Linked DNA regions of Homo sapiens: region 2 is linked to region 1. The links come from fine-mapping of genetic effects on gene expression. Tissue or cell type: visceral fat. Region 1 holds a variant in brackets; the other region holds the start of a gene. All regions are shown on one strand. Distances are from middle to middle.

Region 1 (10,225 bases):
GTTTGCTGATTTCCATGATGTAAACATTGCCACCATGATCAGTTACAAGCTATGAACAGTGAGTTGGAAAAAAATGTGCACAATTGACTCTCATGAGCCAGTATGAATTGGCTTTGTGGTACACACCATTGCTATATCCCAAAGCCATATTGTGATGTTTGCAGCCGATCAGTTCATGTGGCAGATTCCTAAGAGGGTTCCCATGGGTTGCTTTTTAAGATCGAGATCATGTATTTGGTTGACCAAGATAACAGTTCAAGCCTAAAGAATGTAAGTTAATGTGCTGCTATGTATCCCTATGTGAGAGTTTTCTAAAATTGCTGACAGTGTAATTTAAACAGGACAATTGTATTTTAATATTATTGTGGCTTTGAAATTCTATCTTCCCAGTATGCTGCTCCTTTTTATCAGTTTTTATCATTTGCTTCACTGAAGCCCCACCAGCACACTAGAAGCTCCCCGTACACATCACATGCCCTGCAAGTGCTTCTCTCCCACTTGGAGTGTCCCTCCCCTGACTTTGCCTAATAACTCCCACTTACTCTTCAAGACTCAAGTCAATGATTGCCTCCTCCAGGAAGTCTGCTCTGATCCCCGGGTCTTTCTTCTGTGCTCTTATCTCACTTCATTCCTCCCTCAGAGAATTTGCTCTCCATGCTGTAACTATCTGCCTCCTGTCTCCCCAACTAGGCTCTATACTCCTTTAGGTAAGGGCTGAGTCTTTCTCATCTTTATCTTTACAGTGCCTAGCATGGAACCTAACATATAATGGGTGCTCAAAATAAGTAGAAATGAATGACTGAAATAAAAATACAACTCAGCATTACTTAAAATGCAGCATCTTAAACCGTCAGTAGAAAGTTCAGAGTGAACTCCCTTGGGTTTTACAGTGTTGTATCCATAATACATTAACTTAATAATACATTTCTATAAATTACTATAAATATAAAAGGTACTGATATTAGGACAAGGAATAATAAGTGCATATCTCAAAAGCCCAAGCATAGCATAATCTTCTAAACTAGTGTGTTATGTATATGCATGCAATGTTGGAGATATGAATCCTAGGTGTATTGCTGAAACTCTTATCTAATGTGTATTTTTTATCACCTTGAGCTAAAACAGAAACCTCAAATACTGAATGAGAATAAATGTTCTGTATTCCTCCCTGTCAGGTTGAGCACTGGGAAAAATCCATTCACCATGGGGGAGAGCGCCAGAGGCTTATTACAATTATGTAATGCTAGGCCTAGACTACCATGGGGCAGACTGACATTCCTGCCCTATCACCCCACTGGATAATACCCACTTAGGTTTCAAGATCTAGCTCAAAGTCCACATCCTTTGAAGTCTTGCTTGAGCCCTTGCATAAAGCTGGCCATTCCCTTTTCATGTGCCCTATACAGACATCTACCATGAAACTCGCATACTTTATTGCTTTAATAGATAGGCCTGTTGCCCTCTGTTATGGTGTTTTCAAATTTTTCTTTCCATAGTAGGAAATGTTTTACATTGAGATCTTGTATACACAAATGCATGTATGTATATAGGATAACTGAACCAAAAATTTAATGAAAAATACTTTTATTACATGGGATGTACTCTGATGTTTTCTATTCTATTCCTCAGGGAGAAGGACCATGTTCTATTTTTCCACTGAACTTCCAGTACCTACCACAATACCTGCCTGGCACACAGTGGCACTCAATAAGTGCTGCTGGATGGCACTTTGAAAACAGTGACTATTAAAAGGTAAATACAGACAAGGCCACTATAATATCTGAATGGTTGTATCTTGAGGTGACATGCCAAGGTGCCTTTCTAAATCTAATTAACTCTCAGTCCTGAAGAATAAAAAGAAATATGTGTATAGAACTTGACCTCCTGACAATACCTCTTGTATTTAGTTTCTGGCAGTCTCTGAAATCTCTCTATGACTTTTTATTAGATTAAGTTATGTCTCAAGTATCAAGGCTGACAGAAGCTGGGCACAATGAACAATGCAGGACATGCCACCTACCCCTTCATACCTAAACCGGTGTGTGTTTATATGTCAATATGCTTCTTCTCAAATAAGTGAGATTAGCACTGATTAGAAACAAATGTAGACACAGCTGTCTGTGGGGTGGGGAGGGGATGGAGGAGAGAATATATAGAAATATGTGATTAAATTAGCGCATTATGGATACGACTCTGTAAAACCCAAGAGAGGTCACCCAGCAAATGAACTTTCTACTTACAGTTAGTTTAAGATGCTGCATTTTAAATAATCCTGAGTTGTATTTTTATTTCAGCCATTCAATTCATTTTCAGCATCCATTATATGTTAGGTAATATGCCATATACTTCTATAAATATAAAAGGTACTGATATTAGGACAGGGAATAATGAACATACGTCTCAAAAGCCTAACCACAACACAATCTTCTAAACTACTGTGTGTGTGTGTGTGTGCACGCACACACACATGCAATGTTGGAGGTATGGGTTGTAGGTGTATACACAAATACAAACCTATATACACACATAAAAACACATATGTACATACATACACACAAACATATCAAGGAAGGAGCTAGCCATTTGGTAAGCCACCTCGAGCAGACTGATCTTTGCAGAGTGATCAGAATTAGCTTCAGTTATAGGCCTACCACTGGTGCGATCATGTTGCACCCAAAACACACCACATGCTGTTTTAATTATGAAGAAATCTGGAAACCATATTCCAGATTGTGTCGGTTTTCAGAAAGATCACCTACAAGGCAATCAAAGCTGATAAATTTTGAAAGATGATGACTGAAGCAAGGGATGTAGAAAGAAAAGAAATTTTAGCCTCTGGATCAAATGAGGTACCCATTGCTAATACTCTCAGGCCCACAAAACTAGCTGGAAACATATCTTTCTGCTTCTTTAACCCTGATCAAAACTGCAGGGCACAGCTGCTTCACATCCTAGTAATCTTTGTGGACTAACTGCATTTTGTTGGCACAGTATATTTTTAAAGGTTATATTTATTGTTACGTAAGAGTCTGGGAATTTTAGTTCTCATTTTACTTTTTCTTATAGGTCACACTTAAATACTATAATTTTGAATCAATTATAAGGAAAACAAACATAAGCTTAGATCCACTGTGTGAGGCTGATTAGTTTTGCAAATGGTAGTGGATGCAATCTCCACAGCTGGTGCCTACCCTAGACGCTTTTCTAAGTGTGTACATGTACCTCATTGTCTATTTCATTTGCTTTTCACTGGTATAATGTTTCTGTTCTATTTTATTCATGTTTTATGCTTGTCTCTCTCTGTTAGTCTGCCTGAGTTAATACATTCTTGATATGTAAGGGCTGGTATCTAGCTTAAAACCAGATATAAACAGATGCTATCAAAATGCTGTGTTGATGATGTCAGGAACCCACTTAGCAGCATTAGGCTCTCCAAGGCACTACACAAACTTTCTGGCTCACAGCTAGGACTGCCTAGTTTCAGCCAGTCTCTGAATTAAGTACTAAAGGATGATTCCATTACTTGTATGCACGTGTGTGTCATTCATTCCACAAATACATATGAAGGTTTGCTACATACCAGGTTCTTGGTGTAGGTCCTGGGGTTATACTAGAGCACAAAACAGATGGATGCCTGCCCCCCAGGAACTTACAGTCAGAGGAGAGACAACCAATTATTCACACAAATCACATAACGGGAAAGAGTGATAAGAGTTGTGGAGAAAAGGTACAGGATGCCATAAAAGCATCAATGGTGGGAACCGACCTCATTCTGCATATGCCTAAGTGGCAAAACCGTTTTAAAACCTATTATTTGATGATAGCGAGGAATTATTACTTTTTAAAGACTTAATAATAGTATTGTGAGTTTGTATTTTTTTGTTTTTATATTATGCAGATACACTTGGAAATATTGACAATGAAATGATAGAAGTCTTGGATTAGCTTCAAAACAAGCCAGCAGAGAAGACTAGGAGTAGAGCCAGAGTTTTCCTCTTGAAGTTGGGGGGTCGGGTCCATCGCATTCATTATATGTTCCTCTCAACTTTTATGTTTGAAAAGTTCCTAGTAAAAGGTTGAAAAATTTTCAGCAGCATTAAATGAAATATTCACCAAATGGGATGAAAGTCCCATTTCTACATGAAAGTAGAAAGCAACATCTTTCTCTTGGTGTTTTGCTGTGCCCCATCTTTCTCAGGATCTCCATGTGTTTCTATTTCTTTCTCTCCTTTCTCACACGCTTGGCCAACTCCTCTGTCTTTCAACCACCTTACGGTATTCTCTTTTACTTCAACTGAGACTCTTCTCTGCAGCATTTACTAGAGGTGTACATTTTCCTCATCCCTTCCCCATGTCCTCTCTTTCCTCTCTTACATCCGCTAAATTCATTTGCGTTAAGGGCACAGATGCCCCTTACTTCTTCCCCTGTAGGGCAATTGTCCTGAAGAGAACCACACTCCTTACTCCTATTATGGCAACAGGAGAAGGGCGTACATACTTGTGGCCAGGCACTGTTACCTTTCTGCCTCCCTGTGAACTATGTGTGTGCCAGAACACTCTTATCTACCTGTCCACTTGGGCAAAAAATTAGACTGAACAATTACTTGGCAGGTTTTAAGGGTGGCAACAACAGAACTCATTAATTGCGGAGGGGAGAATGACACATTTCCAATTGTTTAGTTCTTTTTCTAAATGGGTACTTTATAATTCATAAGAAATGCAGAGAACTTTCATTCTAACAAGACTGTTCACTACACTATTCTCTACCCTTTTTTGAGAGGCATAAACACTTTCATTCCTAACATAGTTACCTGTTCTCATAACCTCCCTGGGAGAAAGGGAGAGTGAATTTTATTTCCAGAAGAGCAAATTCAGGCACAAAGAGGACAGATAAACTGTCAACAGTCACCAGGGAAGCCAGCAGAAGGGCTGAGAGCAACACTCTTGCCTCTAGCATCAAGTGTGTTATTTACCTGCTGAACCCTCGAGGGTCTGAGCTGGCAGGCTTTCCTGAGGGTGTGGCGGCAGGGCCTGCATTCTTGTCTCTATTGTCCTGTACTGTTTACTTGCAGGATGTGGAAGCACAGCATGTAATGTAATACCAGATGTTCTACGTGGGAGGAATTTCATAACTCATACA[T/C]TTTAGCATGCTTTTTTCTAACTGCGCCCATCTCCTTTCATGCAGCACAAAAATGTAAATCTGTTTCCCAAACTACTACCAGGTCCTGGAATCTAAAAGGAAATACTGGTGGTTCTTTGGTATTTTTCACTTTTAGTTGAAGCACACATGTGGATGTCTAGGGTAACATCATGTGGATTCTTCTTATTTTTTAAATGGCTCCTATTGTAGTGGCCCAGAACAGCTGGGGAATGTCCGAGGGCCACAGGCTCACTGGCCTAGATTAAGGCCTCTACTCACTGATGAGGCCTCCCTATCCAAACTCACTGTCCCTCCTCCCGAGCTGGTACCCATTATCCTGAGTGGGCTAGCTGCCTCTCTCTTCCATAGACACTATGCTCATCCTGCCCTGGTGCCTCTGCTCATTTAGTTTTCCCTTTCTGAAATATCCTAGCTCTTCTCTTCCCATCTCTAAATCCTAGCTGAGCTCTGGCCCCACCTCACATCAGCCCACTAAACTTGCCTTTCTCTGCACTGCTGGAGGGGACAGCCTCCGCACCCTATGACTTTAGCACTTAACTCTGTGCATGTGTGTATGTATGTTCCCTTGTCCTGTCTCCGCACTAATCTGCAAGATTTCTGAGGGCAGGAAGGGACCATTGTGTAGACTTACCTGAATTCCCTATGTTGCCTAGGAACAGATAGACATGGATGGGGCGATTTGAGCTTTAGATTTTAAGGAGCCTGAGTAGAAAGAACAGGTGATTTTGTTTATTTGGCTGTTTCCGTTAGGGACGGGGATGGCTGTGGATTTCAGTTTGAGGTCCGAGTTGCTGCATGAGGTGGAGGTGGAAACACACACAAATCTAGGTTTCCCCACAGTCCATCATGACATTTCACCATAGCAGTAGTGCTGGTCTAAATGTGATGGGAGCACTGACCTCTGCTGGAATGCTCTCTGGCCCATCTCTCTAGCAGCTCTCTTGACCTCTTCGGGAACTGCATCTTTCTCAGCCTGAGAGACCTGGTACACCGTATGGCCTGCATCCAGCCGGTAAGGGCCTCCTTTGCCACCCAGGCCTGCCGTGTCTCTTCCCCCTGGAAGGAAAACGTGGAAATTCAGATGATAAATCTGAACTTGACCACAGAACAAAAGTTGGGTCATGGTTTTAGGACAGCCTTGTGGAGGATATTAATTGTACTTAACTAGTAATTAAACAGTCAAATTACCTTCTGGAAAAAGATGTATTCTCTTGTTTAGGATGCTTTTCCTTTTTCCCATCCATTAAAATACTACCTATATATCAAGGCTTACTCCAGCTTCTATGACACCTTAGCTAATGCTGCTACCTCATAAGGATCCATACTCTTGTGTACTATTTGTTATCCTTTCATATTTATTTTTCTCACCAACTATATGATGGATGAGATATTTTATTTACTTTTGCACTACCGCACCTATAAGAGTGGTTTGAATATCATAGATACTTAGTATATATTTGCTAATTAAATGAACAACTGTTTCCCTCCCTCACATATTACCTTAGTTTTCCTTAAAAAACCTAGACAGTTAAGCTATAAATACTGTTTTTTTCTGTTCTGCAAATTATAAAAATAATGCACAGAGAGGCTAAATGACATATTCAGGACCTCGTATCACTGGCTTAGCCAAGATTAGAAGCCAATTATTACACCAACTTTGACTTCTGGTTTGAACAATATATAACATAAACACCATCAGCTTTAGAACAGTCTTTCAATAGAAACTCAAGTTTACATAATACATATTACATATACATATTACGTTTTATAACATAACATTGTATGAACTGTTCATATTGTAAATGCCTGTAAGGCCAGGTAGGTCATATGATAAAAAGTGGTGGGGACATTGGCTAACTTAGGATTTACCTTGTCTAAATACATGAAAATTGAAATTATTTTAAAACACTACATGGACCAGAGAAAAAAACACATCTGTTGGCTAGATTTGGCCTTTGGGCTATAAGATTGTTACCCCTATTTAGGGGTAGATTAGAATACTAGTAACCTGTTTCTTTTGTTCATTCACGTATAACTTGAGAACTTAGAAGGGAATCCAATATTGGAGGGGCAGTATAGTATAATACACTGCTATTGTAGAGTATATTATGATATAGTTAAACCAGACTGCCTGGGTTTGAATCCTGGCTCCAACCCACCAGCCATTTATCTTTGGGGAACTACTTAACTTCTCTGTGTCTCAGGCTCCTCTTTATAAAGTGGGGATACTAATATTATTTACTTCATGGGATTGTCATGAAGCTAAAATGCTTAGAGCAGTATCTGGCACATAATAAAAGCCATATAATGGACTGCTTTTACTATTATTATTAAACAAAGCCTAGTTACACAGAATTAGGCAATTTCTAGTTTTATAAAGTGGAAAATTTGAAGGCTTTTAGACTTTGGGTAAATTATGTTACATTTTTCTTTCACCATCACCACCCCCACCTCCACCTTACCACTGAGCTTTAACTGGTCTAACAAAACTAAAACCAAGAACTCAATATGAACTGCTTTCCTTATGAAAGTCCAGGTAGGTCATTTCCTTTTGGGAAATACCATGAGAACTGCCTATTAATTACACTACTTTAATCTTTTGATTGGAACATATTTCACTTTTATTTAGAAATGGGTGGTGGAAAATTCCTTCTGGGATGTGTGTGACTCCCATTTCTTACTCATGGCCAGCCAATAGGCAGAGGGGTACAGTAACTGGACAGTGACAATGAGCTATAGGAGGAAAAGGTGTTTCTGGGATCTAACTCCTTTCCTACAGGAGGGTATCCTGAGTATGGGTGGATCATGAATTTGAGCTGAAAGCTTCCTAGGTGCTGAGATGTTATCATTCTGGTGAAAGGGAGAAAGTGGTGGAACCATCAGAAGCTGGTGTGAGTGACTGGCCACCTGAGTCGCAGGGCCCCAGGCAAAGTCACACTGGGGTGGAGCAGGAGGTGCTCTTCATGATCTCCACTTCCCAGAGCCTTTAATTTGTACTATTTAAATGAAAGTGCTTACCAGAGGTTCTAAGACTGCAGGGCATAAGCCTGGACATTCCAAACCACTTCAGAAGATAATGGGGAGGGTGGGCAAGGGAGGAGCATTGATGAAGAAAGGGGAATCAAATGACTTGTTGGGCCAGAGCTCAGTTCAAAGTAAAGAATTCTGAGGGAAAAGAATGGCAGAGAGAAAAAGAGAAATTGAAGCCAAGGAGCCTTGATCAATTGAAAACTAAAAGCCAGGTGAAACAAATGTAGCCTCAATCTGGACAGATACGTGAGCTAGTAAATTCAAGTTTGGTAACAAATAGGAATTTCTCCCCCAGAGTAGTCCACTGCTGGGAAACCACATCTGGCCAGCTCGTCCCACAATGCATTCCATATGGATTAAATCTTGTTGGCTTGACGCTAACTTCCAGATCAAAGGACATTTCTAAAAATAGCCTTACTTTAAAGCTGATGCTTGATGAATAAACAGAGTAGGCAAGAAGTCCACAGGCCTATTTGATAGCACATTGTCTAAGCAGAGAAACCCATTTCCTCCCGAGGCTGTCAAGGCCAAGAGGCACAGACCATCCTAAGGAAGGTGAAGTACAGAGCTCCTGCCAGCACTCCTCATGGTGAGATAAGCTCAGACAGTGCGCACACAGTCTGGCCCTATTCCTGTGGACTCGCAGATGTGTCTGCTCCAGCTGCCGCAGAGGAAAAAGGAAGACGGCAGTCCTGGGAACAATGCCCTAGTTGGGCAGCCAAGAGGAAGGAGTCGGCCATCGGTTTAGACTGCAACCAGCCTTATCTCGAAATCTTGCATCCTCAACGTACTTCGAAGATGTGGAAGACAAGGACCATTTCTTTTCAGTCAGTTGCTGAAGAAAGAATTTACTGTGGATTTCTGGCATGATCCCAAGGTCATGGAATTTAAAAGAAGGGATTAACACTTTAGTGAAAATATTCTTCATGCCAGGCACTGTGCTCAGTGCTTAACAATCGTAATCTCATTTAATCCTCACCACAATTTAAGGTAGTTCACACTATCCCCCTTTGACTGATGAAGCAACTCCAGGAGGGTCAGCATGTTCTTAGGTCACAGGGTGGCAGAGCCTGTGGGACTCCAAATGCCAGGCTCTTCACATGCCTTGATGTCACGCTGGGGCAGAGGGCAAGACAACAATCCAACTGAGTAATGAGGGAGGCTGAGAAGGAAAGCCCGTCTCTGAGTCTTCTCAGGGGCGATGTGCTGGCCTAATGGGCTTGGGAAACCTGGGGAAGGCTGACTCAGGAGAATGCCTGTGCTACCAACCTGTTCCGCCAGCCCAAGTGTTGCCGCCCACGTGAGGCATGTTGTCTGGGTCCTCCTTCCCGTGTTTGGGGGAGCTTACATCTTCACCACTGTCTCTGTTGATTGTTATCTAAAAATGAACAATTGAGACATTTTTACTATCCTGTGACAAACACCAGGGACTGCATGACAGAAAAAAAAATTATTTTCTCCTAAGTCCTTAAGGTATCACATAACCTCAGGCCACTGGACTTGATAAATGCTGTGAGTATTTGGCAAAAATTCCATCAGATGGATTCCAACATCCATCTAGTTGGGAAGAAGAACTAATTTTTTAAAAAACTCTTAAAGAAAAGTAAAGGAGCTGGACTGCATTATAGCTACAGAATTTTTCTGGTGCAAACCAAGCTGTGAGCATTTACACATGGCATGAGACTTACCAGATGCAGGGAAAATGGATCTCACTGGAGAGGGGTATTTTGCCAGTGGTTTAAAAGGATCACCACCTAGCTGATCCAGCTGAGTCATTATATACACACTTACCCATTCTGTTTTCAAAGAAATCCCATTACTCTGAGAGATGCCATTTTACATATAATATATGGAAAAGAAAAACAAAAAGTTATGTATGTATGCCTTAGTGATAGATTTATGTTATATACTAAAAACTGCTTATTTATTTTTTTGACCCACTTCAATTTTTATTATGGTATTTTGTAGCTTTCCTAATTCATCTTTATTGTAAAACTAGATTTATGATTCCTGCAATTCAAATAGAATAAGAAG
Region 2 (10,225 bases), 150 kb before region 1:
CACAGAGCGTACACCCTCTTGATATGAGGACTGACATCTTATGAGGATAATACGAGTAATTTGATAAGGCGTACAAACCCTGTGACATAAGGAGTGACATCCCTCTAGGATGTTACAAATAATATCAAAGGGAATACACCCCGTGTGACCACAAAAGTAACCTCCCCTTAGGAGATTAAGAAGGTGTACAAATATTGTGACATTATTATTAATGTCCCGCTATATTATAGTGAATAATATCACAGTGTGTAGAGTCCTGTGACATCAGCATTAACATTCCCCTACAATATTACGAATTATATCGCTGGGTGCACACCCCCCATGTGACTTTAGTAGTGGCATGATCCTAGAATATCAAAAATAATGTCCCACGGTGATAACCAAGTGTGCCAGGAGAGAAAATATCCTAGGAGTAACTAATATCTTATAATGTCACACGGGGTGTACTCCCTGTGTTATATTTCGTAATATCTTAGGGCAATTCTACTTTTAATGACACAGGAGGTGTGCACATGCAGGCAGTAATATCACCCCCCTCTCCCCCCCGGATATTAGGAGCCACATCGCAGGGGGGCGGGCGCCCCCCGCGATGCGGGGAGTAATATCACCCCCCTCTCCCCCCCTGGATATTACGAGCTACGGTGGTCACACAGCCTCTTTACTTTATTGTGAGTAATATCTCCTCCGCCTCTGGAAATTACCAACCATATCTCAGAAGGGTGTACATCTTCTGCACTATTGGTAGTAATAACATCCTCTTCCCCCTGGATAGGAAGAACAAAATCACAGGAGTGTTTCTACCCCCAGCGCCATTGGGTGTAGTATCATCCTCTCCCACTTTGAAATTAGGAACAACATCACTGGGGGCTTGTCCACCCCATGTGATATTGAAAGTAATGTCATCCTCTTCTGTCCTGGATCATGGAAAAAATATTACTGGGGTGGTGTACACTTTCTGCGGTTTTGTGAGTAATATCATCCTCTCTGACTTGCAGTCTTAAGGGCAATATCACAGGGTGGCTGTACACACCCTGTGCTATTAAGAAGAATATTATCCTGTCCTGCCCTGCATATTAGGAAAAATGTCACAGAGTAGGTGTACAACTCCTGCGATATGGGAGGTAATATCATCTTTTCATCTTCTGGATAGTAGGAACAGTATCACATGGGTTTGTACACTTTCTGTGATATTGGGAGTAATATCAACATCTCCGCCTTTGACTATGAAGAACAATATCACAGAATGGATGTACACCCACTCAGATATTGGGAGTCATATCAGCCTCTCATCTCCATGGATATTGGGAATAATATCCCAGGGTGGGTGTACACCTCCTGCTGTATGGGGAGTCATATCGTCCTCCCCCATCCTGGCAATTAGGAACAATATCACAGGGTGGGTGTCCACAGCCTGCGATATTGGGACTCATATCACCCTCTCCCCCTCCGGATATTAGGAACAATATCACAGAAGGGTTGTATATTTCCTGCGATACTGCGAGTAATAGCATTCTCTTCTTCCGTGAATATTAGGAGCAATATCACCGGGTGGATGTACACCCACTGCTATATTGGGAGTAACGTCATACTCCACCCCCTGGATGTTATATTCGGATCAATATAACCGGGTGGGTGTACACCTACTGTGATATTGAAAGTAATATCATGCTCTCTCCTTTCCGTGGACATTAGGAACAGTATCACAGGTGGGTGTACACCCACTGCGGTATTAGGAGTAATATTAGTATGAATTATTACACCTTGATTATTAACATGAATATGAATTACCAATATTAATATTAAGAAATAATTGCTAATAAAAAGTTTTCAGATTATTAATATTAATATTATTAGGAGCTAATATTACTGTTTTCTAATGAATAAGATCAGTATCAGTTATTAATATCAGGTGTTATTAATAATTAATATTAATAATTTATTTTTATCATTGGTAGAACTATGTAATAGAAATTATGATTATCGGTATTGATTTAAAAATATCAGTTATTAATATTGATATTATTAATATCAATCAATAATTGATGTTTTAATATCAATCAATAATTGATGTTATTAATATCAATCAATAATTGATGTTATTAATTGCGATAAGTAATATTGCGACATTCCTCACAATATCGCAGAAAATGTACACCCCTCTGTGATGTTGTTCCGAATAGTCAGGGGTAGACGATGGCATTACTCCAAATATCGCACTGGGTGTACATTCCTTCTGTGATCTTGTTGCTAATATCCAGGCTGGGAGAGGATGGTATTAATCCCAATAATCCAGAAGGTGTAGACCTCCCCTGTGATATTGTCCCTAATATCCAAAGGTGGAGAGGAAGATATATCACCCAATTTCGCAGGGGTTGGACACCACCCCTGTGATATTGTTTCTAATGTCCACGGGTAGAGAAAATGACATAACTCACAGTATGGCAGGGGGTGAACACTCCCTCCATGATATTGTTCCTAATACTCGGGGGTAAGAGTATGATATTACTCCCAATATCATAGGGGGTGTACTCCCAATATCCCAGGGGGTGTATAGTATCCCGACCGGTGATAGACTCCGCCACGATGCGGGGAGTAATATCACGCCCCTCTCCTTCCCTGGCTATTACGATACACATCGCAGGGGGGCGGGCGACGCTCGCGACGCGGGGAGAAATATCAGCCCCTCCTGACATTACAAGCCACATGGCAGGGGATGGACACCCCCAGTGATGCGGGGAGTAATATCTACCCCCCCTTCCCCATGGATATTAGGAGCCACATCGAAGGCGTGTGGACAGCCCCCGCTGATGCGCAGAGTAATATCAACCTCCGTCCCTCCCTGCATGTTAGCAGCCACTGTGGACACACAGTGTATTTACGATATTTCCAGTAAGATTATCTTTTCTATTGAACCTTATGAACAAGATCACAGGGGGGTGTACACATCCTGCGATATTGGGGGTAATATCATTCTCTCCTCCACAGCATACTGGGAACAATATCACAGGGGCGTGTATTCCCCCTTTCTTATTGGGAGTCATATCATACTTGCCTTCCATATATTAAGAACAATATCAAAGGGGGGGGTGGACACTTTGACGATATTGGGAGTAACATCATTCTCTCTATCCCTGGATATTAGTAGCAATATCACAGGGGGATGTACATTTCTTGTGATATTGAGAGTAGTATTATTGTCTTCCCCACTGGATATTAAAAACAATACCACATGGGGTGTCAAACCACCTGCCAAATTTGAGGGAATCTTATCCTCTCCCCTGCACCCCCCGCGCCCCGGATATTACAGACAATAACACAGGGGTAATGTACACCCACTGCTTTATTGGGAGAAGCATCATCCTCTCCTCCCTTAGATATTAGGAACAATATCATGGGGAGGGGGTGTACTGCCTCGGCGATATTGGGAGGAAAATTATCCTCTCTTCCCCTGGATATTAGGAAGGGTATCAGAGGGGGGAGAGTGTACATTCCCTGTGATATTCAATGTAATCTTATCCTCTCCCTCCCAGGGTATTAAGAAAAATATTACAGGAGGGTGTACACCCCCTGCAATACTGAGAGTCATATCATCCTCTTTCGCTCTGGATATTAGGAACAATATCACAGGGTTGTGTACTCCCCCTGCGATATTGGGAGTAATATCATTCTCTCTCCCTGTGGATTTTAGGAAGAGTATTACAGGGCTGTGTACACCCCCTGCGCTATTGGGAGTAATATCATCCTCTCTCCCTCTGGATAGTAGGAAGAGTTTCATAGGGGTGTGTACACCCCCTGTGATATTGGGAGTAATATCATCCTGTCGCCCTGAGGAGAGAAGCCATTTCGCTACTGTCTCCTGTCTCTGAAGAGGAGGAGGAAGTAAAAGTTGGAAAACAACAGGAATGAAGTCAGTGTCAAGACCAGCCGGTGGCAATGAGGAGCCGGCCTGAGGTGAAACAATCAACCCCCGTGACTCTAAGTACATGTGCTCTCAATCCATCAAGACCCTTTCACGTGGAACCCCTTAAAGCTGTAAGCCCTTAAACGGGCCAGGAACTCTGTCTTCCTTCCGGGAGCTCGGCTCTTAAGACGCGAGTCTGCCGAAGCTCCCAGCGGAATAAAAAAAACTCTTCCTTCTTTAATCCGCTGTCTGAGGGGTTTTGTCCGCTGCTCATCCATGCTCCATTTCTTTGTTCCCTGACCGGGAATCGAACGCAGGCAGCAGCGGTGAGAGCACCGAATCCTAAGCACTAGACCACCAGGGGAACTTAGAACCTTGTGGGAAATAGATTGCGCACCATTAGAAGTGGGTTGGCCATCAGAAGGAAGCCTGGACAGGTCCCTTGTTTCTAAGGCGTGGCACAAGGTAACTGGTAAAGATACCTAGACCAGTTCCCATACATAGACACTTGGTGACAGCTGGTGCTAGAACCCCCACAGTGGCTGAGGGCATGCAGCAGCAATACTAGTAGCAAAGGGACAGATAGCTAAGGAAGGATCCCGCTCCACTCACCCAGGGAAATCAACTCCTGAAGTTCTGTTCGACCCCACATCAGAGGATCCATTGCAGGAGATGGCACCAGAGATCCCAGTGGTGTCCTCCCCTTAACAGGGAAAGAGGCTCCCCACTCTTGAGCCCACAGTGCTTGTGCCTCCACAAGACAAGCATATCCCTAGGCCACCCAGAGTAGACAAGAGAGGAGGACTATTCATATGATTAGTGGTCATTAACATATACTCCTTTGTGAGGTGTATGTTTCAATGTTTTGCTCATTTTTAATTTTTACCAGGTTGTCTATTTGTGATTACTTTGTAGATGGGTCTTTCTATATTCTGAAAACAAATCCTGGCTGGGTGCGGTGGCTCACGCCTGTAATCCCAGCACTTTGGGAGGCTGAGGTGGGCAGATCACCTGAGGTCGGGAGTTCGAGACCAGCCTGGCCAACATGGACAAACCCCGTCTCTGCTAAAAATACAAAAACTAGCTGGGAGTGGAGGCTGAATGTTTCACTCCGTTACATGTTAATTGCTCTACATTTAATTAGCCGTCTGTGGTGAGAGGCGAGAGGCTAGCGCCTAGCTCAGCGCACAGTCCAGGGCGTTCGCCCCCGCAGGCCGCGGGGCAGGGTGGCTCGTTACTCCGTGGACACTGCAAGGCGCCCTGTTCGCGCTGCGTCGACGCAGTAGTTTCTTCCCATAATAAACCCCTTCTAGATAAAGTCAGGCTGGCGGGAGCGCCCTGGACCGTAGTTCAGGCCCCCGCGCTCCGCGGTGGGAACAGTTCAGGACTCCCCCAACTCCTGCCCCTCTCGCCCCGACCCTCTCCACTCCGCCCGCCCACCATCTCGGAAGTCCCCTTGGGACAATGCGTAGGGGACCTCCGCGTCCCCGACACCCGACTGGGACACGGCCGCGGGCTCCTTCGTCCCTCACCGCCAGCCAGGGAGGCTCTGCATGCCCACGTCCACTTCACAGCCGAGGAAGCTGCGGCTCGCGGAGGTGCCTGGCACGCGGCGGGAAGCAGCAGAGCTCGCGCCCAGCAGTCAGCTCTGGTGACGCCGAGGACACCGCGTGGGCCGGGTTGTCAGGGCGCGGGGGCGAGAGGCGGGTAAATATTTGGGGCTGTAACCGGGGCTTCGGCGACTCCTCGTCACCGCGGTTCCAGGGCGGGCGCGTGGCGAGGGCGGTGCCTGGGGGCAGGGGCCTCCTCGGAGGGCGGCGGGGACAGACCCGTCGCCCCGGCTCCGCAGCCCCGCCCCGGCCCCGCCTCCGCTCCGGCCGCCGAAGGCTATAAGATCTAGGAACCCGAGCCGGTGGTAGGGCGGGCGCGGACCGTGCTGGGAGCGGCGCGGCTGGAGCGCAGCGCCGAAGGGACTGGCAGGGCTGAAGTGTGCGGGACAGCAAGCCCCCGAATAGCCCCGGCTGCCACCTCGCAGGACCCAAGGCCACGCGCGCCGGGCCCAGCTGAGCCGCCTCATGAAGCCGCCCGCGGCGCAGGGCAGCCCCGCGGCCGCCGCGGCCGCAGGTGAGTGCGGGGTCCGGGGTCCCCTTAAAGTCTCGGCTCTGCAGATGGCGGGTGAGAAAGGAGGGGCCCCGTGTCGTCCCTTCACACCCCCCACCCTTCCATCCTCCCCGGCGGGAACCTGTCCCCGGTCTTCCCGCGCGGGCGGCTGCAGCCTCCTTTCCGGCCCGGGCTGGCCCCCATGTCCCACCTTCCCTCCACCACCAGCTCCGCGCGCGCCCGGGGTTGGGGGGAGCGGCGGGGACAGGTAACCGGCAGCGCCTGGGGAGGAATCTGGCCGCGCCAAGTCGCTGGGTGACCCTGGGCCTGGCGAAGGCTCAGTTTTCTTGTCTGTAAAACGGACTTGGTAATAGAACGCACTTCGGGGGTGGTGGAGAAGATTACAAGGTAACAGCGACTGCGTGGCTGTCACTTGGCAGAGGCGCCAAGTGTCAGTTATCTTCGGGAACCGTGGCGGCCCCTCCTGGCCCTGGGAGGTGGTCCCGCTGCCCCCCTGACTTCCGTGCACTGAGCCCCTGGCCCTGCCCGCAGCCCCGGCCCTGGACTCGGCGGCCGCGGAGGACCTGTCGGACGCGCTGTGCGAGTTTGACGCGGTGCTGGCCGACTTCGCGTCGCCCTTCCACGAGCGCCACTTCCACTACGAGGAGCACCTGGAGCGCATGAAGCGGCGCAGCAGCGCCAGTGTCAGCGACAGCAGCGGCTTCAGCGACTCGGAGAGTAAGTGCGGCCCCCGCTAGGATGGCGCCGGGATCTCCCAGCTCCCAGGACCTGCCCCGCGAAGGCTGCGGCCTCAGTTTTCTTATCAGTAAACTGAGGAATGGTTTCCTGAAGCTCAACGCAGTAGGCCGAGTGGTGGCGGGGCCCCTGACGATAATCACGGGAAAGGTCGCTGGAGGGCAGGTTGGTTCACTTGCCGCCCACGGGTGTGTCACCAGGCAGGCGAGTTTAAGCAGCTTGTCCCGACTCAGCCAGACAGGACTCCCTGGACCTGCACCAGGCCTTTCCGCAGTTTCCCTCCTCTTCTCCTTTCCGTGCCTCTCCCCTCTCAGCTGTAACTTTGCAGATGTGGAACAAGTGCCAGTGGAATGAGGGGGCACAGTGGGGACATGGGAGGGCGCAGAACGGAAATATTCATGAAACCAGGAAAGGTTTCATAAGCCCAAACTGCTGTTCTTGGGATTTATGAAATAACTGCTTGCATTGTCTTCTGGCCCTTAGCTCTCAGACTTGTTGCTCCATTGCATGCAGTTATGAAAATCTTTGGCACTGCTGAGTTCAAGTATTTTTCAGCCAGGTCCTCCACCAGGCTGGAGGGGGAGCCAGAGAGCACATGGGCATGAAGGTGGTTCCTGGTGATCTTTCTCACAATGGAGACTACCCCAGGGTCTCTTTGTCCTGAACAACTTTGTCAACAACAGCAACAACAACAAAAACAACAAAAGAGACAGCTTTTTCCAGGAACTCACATGTCCTGGGAGGATTACAGGTACCTCAAACAGCAAATTAGGTGCCTTTTTAATATTACATGATTGTTGGTTTCAAATCCAGAATTGCTTATTGTTTTTCAAAGGGCAAAGTCAATTTTAAACTCTTCTGTGTTATTCTTCAGCCTTTAATCCTTAGATGGGTTACAGGCATGAATGTCACTCCTTTTGCTGCCCTTGACTCAGGACGTGAAAGTAATGGCCTTTCCGTGTGATTCTCTTATTTTGAAACCTGGAGCTCTTCCTTGTTCCTGGGCTAAGATTCGGGGCTAGACATGAACATGAGCTGCCCTTCTGCAAAGGGATAAATGCGCTCACCACCCTGGTCAGGGTTTGACTCAGGAAGCTGAGTTCCAGCTTGTTTCCTTGGCAGCACTGCCAAAGAGTTAGACCAAGCTGCAGCTTTTGAGGTGAAAGGGGATGGAAGAAAGTACTGTTACTTTTCCACTTAGAATTTTTGGACTTTGTTCTTAATGAATAGGTTCATTTTCAATTTCAAAGCAAAGTGTTAACATTTTTGAAATTTGTCTCAATTCTAAAGGCCAAACTTAAATATGTCTCCTCCTACTGGGGCATGGAGCAAGTTATTCATCAAATACAGATTCTCGCATGGAAAAGAAAGCTAGGATAGTGTGTCGCTGCTGCTCTGTGGCAAAGAACAGCTCCTTTCTAAGCAACAGCCTCACTCTACTAGAATAGGTCTGAGCGCGCCCATTCATGGCTGATTGCAACTTCCACTGGGTGGGATTTCAGATCTAGAATCTGTTTTCAGATGCCTTAAAGAGAAGACATAGAAACACATTCTTAACAGTTTCAGGGGAGATAGTTGGGATAGTTTGTAGTTTTGCTTAGGTTATATGTGTCTGTTTTCTGCTTTTGTTGTTAACGGACTAACCCTTAGTTTGGTGGTTAGAGAAGTGATGGGAAGAACATAAAGAAAGCTCAGATGACATTTGTCTTTGCTTTAAATGTGTAGTTTTTCTCTCACAAGGCTAGTCAGAAATATTGTTGGCAGAAGCTGTGTGTATCTAAATAGTAATTTCTTAAGGAAGCATAATATGTATATCTTAATTGCTGCCAAGAATTGAGTACAGACATTTGTTATCCTCGTTTGTCTGTTTAATGCTTTTCTATGGGAGAGAATGCTTAAGAGAGGTAGATACTACTGAAATTTAGCTCATCAAGAGGGAGACACACCAGGATAAGGATAATAACAGCAGCTCACTTTTAGCAAACGCTTGTTATGATGATGATGATGATTTATTAGCTGGAATGGGAACCATGTCTTCACGAATAGACTGAAGTCCTTTTGAGCCCAGATCACATGCCTGTTTGTCAATGATGGCTGTTTATGAAGGTGTCTCTTTGAGGTGGTGGTCATCTGGCAGGGTCAGTAGAGCTTAGATTGAGCCTTGTCAAGGCCCTGGGTGATGAGTGGGATTTAGTTTCTCTAGCTGTGAAATTGAAAGGATGCTATTTAATAGTGCTATTAGGGAGAAAATATTTGCTCTGTTGAATACTTTCAAAATATCATTACAATGTACATGCTGTGCTATACCATATAGATACATTGGAGCCAGTGTCTCGCATGAAAATATTTTGGATGAATATGTAAACCAATGTTACCTTTGTTTTTTGCTCTAGTTTTTACAGCTCTGTCTGAAGGTGCACCAACCTTACAAGGAAGATCAAACAGCAAGCCTGTTCTTTGAAGAATACTTCTTTATTATCATTAAAAAAAATTTAGGTTGCTTGCACCCAAAGGCAAAAAATAGCCATTCCTCGTACTGAAAGAAACAAGTTACTCAGATAGGAAAGAAGAACAGATATTTAATAAGGAAATATTCCTTCCTGTTCCCACTTTCAGGGAGGCCTCTTAAGACATGAAGAGGACCAAAATAACAATTGCAGTATAACTTCACATGGTGGGGTGGGGGGTGTGGAGTTCAAATGTGGTTGATCAAAATAGTGTTGTTACTTTCGTTTAGACTTGATTCCAACATGTAAAAAAATCAGGCACTTTAGTGGGAGTGATTTTAACTTCAGTAGTGAAAGGGCAATGCAATTAAGAGTTAGGGTAGTGTTTCTCAAACTTCATCCTCAGAGGTGCTTTAGAAATTGACTACCTTTGGTTTGAATTTATTTTTAGAAATATATCTTCTTTTCAGTATTTTTAAAACTGTAAAAGGTAAACCATGTTTTCTCAAATGTGTTAAATGGAATTTTAACTCATTATGTTTCAAGTTTTAACCAGTGTGTTGACTTTATAAGAAGTTTATAATATTAACTTAAACTTTAAAAGGTGGTATGCACTTATACCTTTAAGGTATTGGGGTTTCACATAATTTTTCCTTTGACGGGGGAGTGTTTTGCTGCTCAACAGAAAAGGTCTGAAGTCTACTGTGTATGCTAGGGTTATTATGATATTGTAGGACCATTTAGGAAATGAGGAACTGGCTTCTTTAGCATCAGCAAGACTTAGAACACCTGCATATCTTTGCTTAGGCTATTCTGGCCTGGCCCTGGGAGAGGGGACCTTGTGGGCCCTGGAGAACCAGCATGACAGATGGCTTATGTGGCTTAGAAGCCACTGAGGTAGAACCTGAACTTGTTCAAGCCATGAGAGAATAAGGCCAATGAGGAGCCTTCAGGGTTCCCTGGTACTGTGTTAGCAATTCTGCATGGGTAATGGATCTTGTGATGCTTGGCAAGGCATATA

Direction of the effects. Positions count from the first base shown, and alleles are read on the strand shown. Sizes are in standard deviations (SD) of each study's normalised expression.
For the expression in visceral fat of the gene that starts at base 5,819 in region 2, C is the high allele of the variant in region 1 and T is the other (moderate effect, 0.47 SD a copy in GTEx).

Evidence for each region. PIP is the estimated chance that this variant, and not a neighbour inherited with it, causes the effect.
Region 2: it holds the start of RGCC, and the variant in region 1 is fine-mapped to the expression of RGCC in visceral fat (GTEx, PIP above 0.99). The same link has a PIP of 0.9 or more in breast and subcutaneous fat.

Annotation. Positions count from the first base shown.
Region 1 is chr13:41,605,516-41,615,740 of GRCh38, forward strand. It overlaps VWA8 (von Willebrand factor A domain containing 8), which reads right to left. Exons shown (of 45, transcript NM_015058.2): 38 at 9,461-9,569; 39 at 6,061-6,217. Among named protein-coding and RNA genes, the nearest start is that of MIR5006, 42 kb to the left of the region's middle. RefSeq lists an enhancer at 8,899-9,891. The variant T/C (reference allele first, on the strand shown) is at 5,141.
Region 2 is chr13:41,451,732-41,461,956 of GRCh38, forward strand. It overlaps RGCC (regulator of cell cycle), which reads left to right and starts at 5,819. Exons shown (of 5, transcript NM_014059.3): 1 at 5,819-6,025; 2 at 6,554-6,739. The coding sequence starts at 5,977. RefSeq lists a silencer at 5,592-6,431 and enhancers at 6,005-6,682, 6,732-6,861, 10,109-10,208.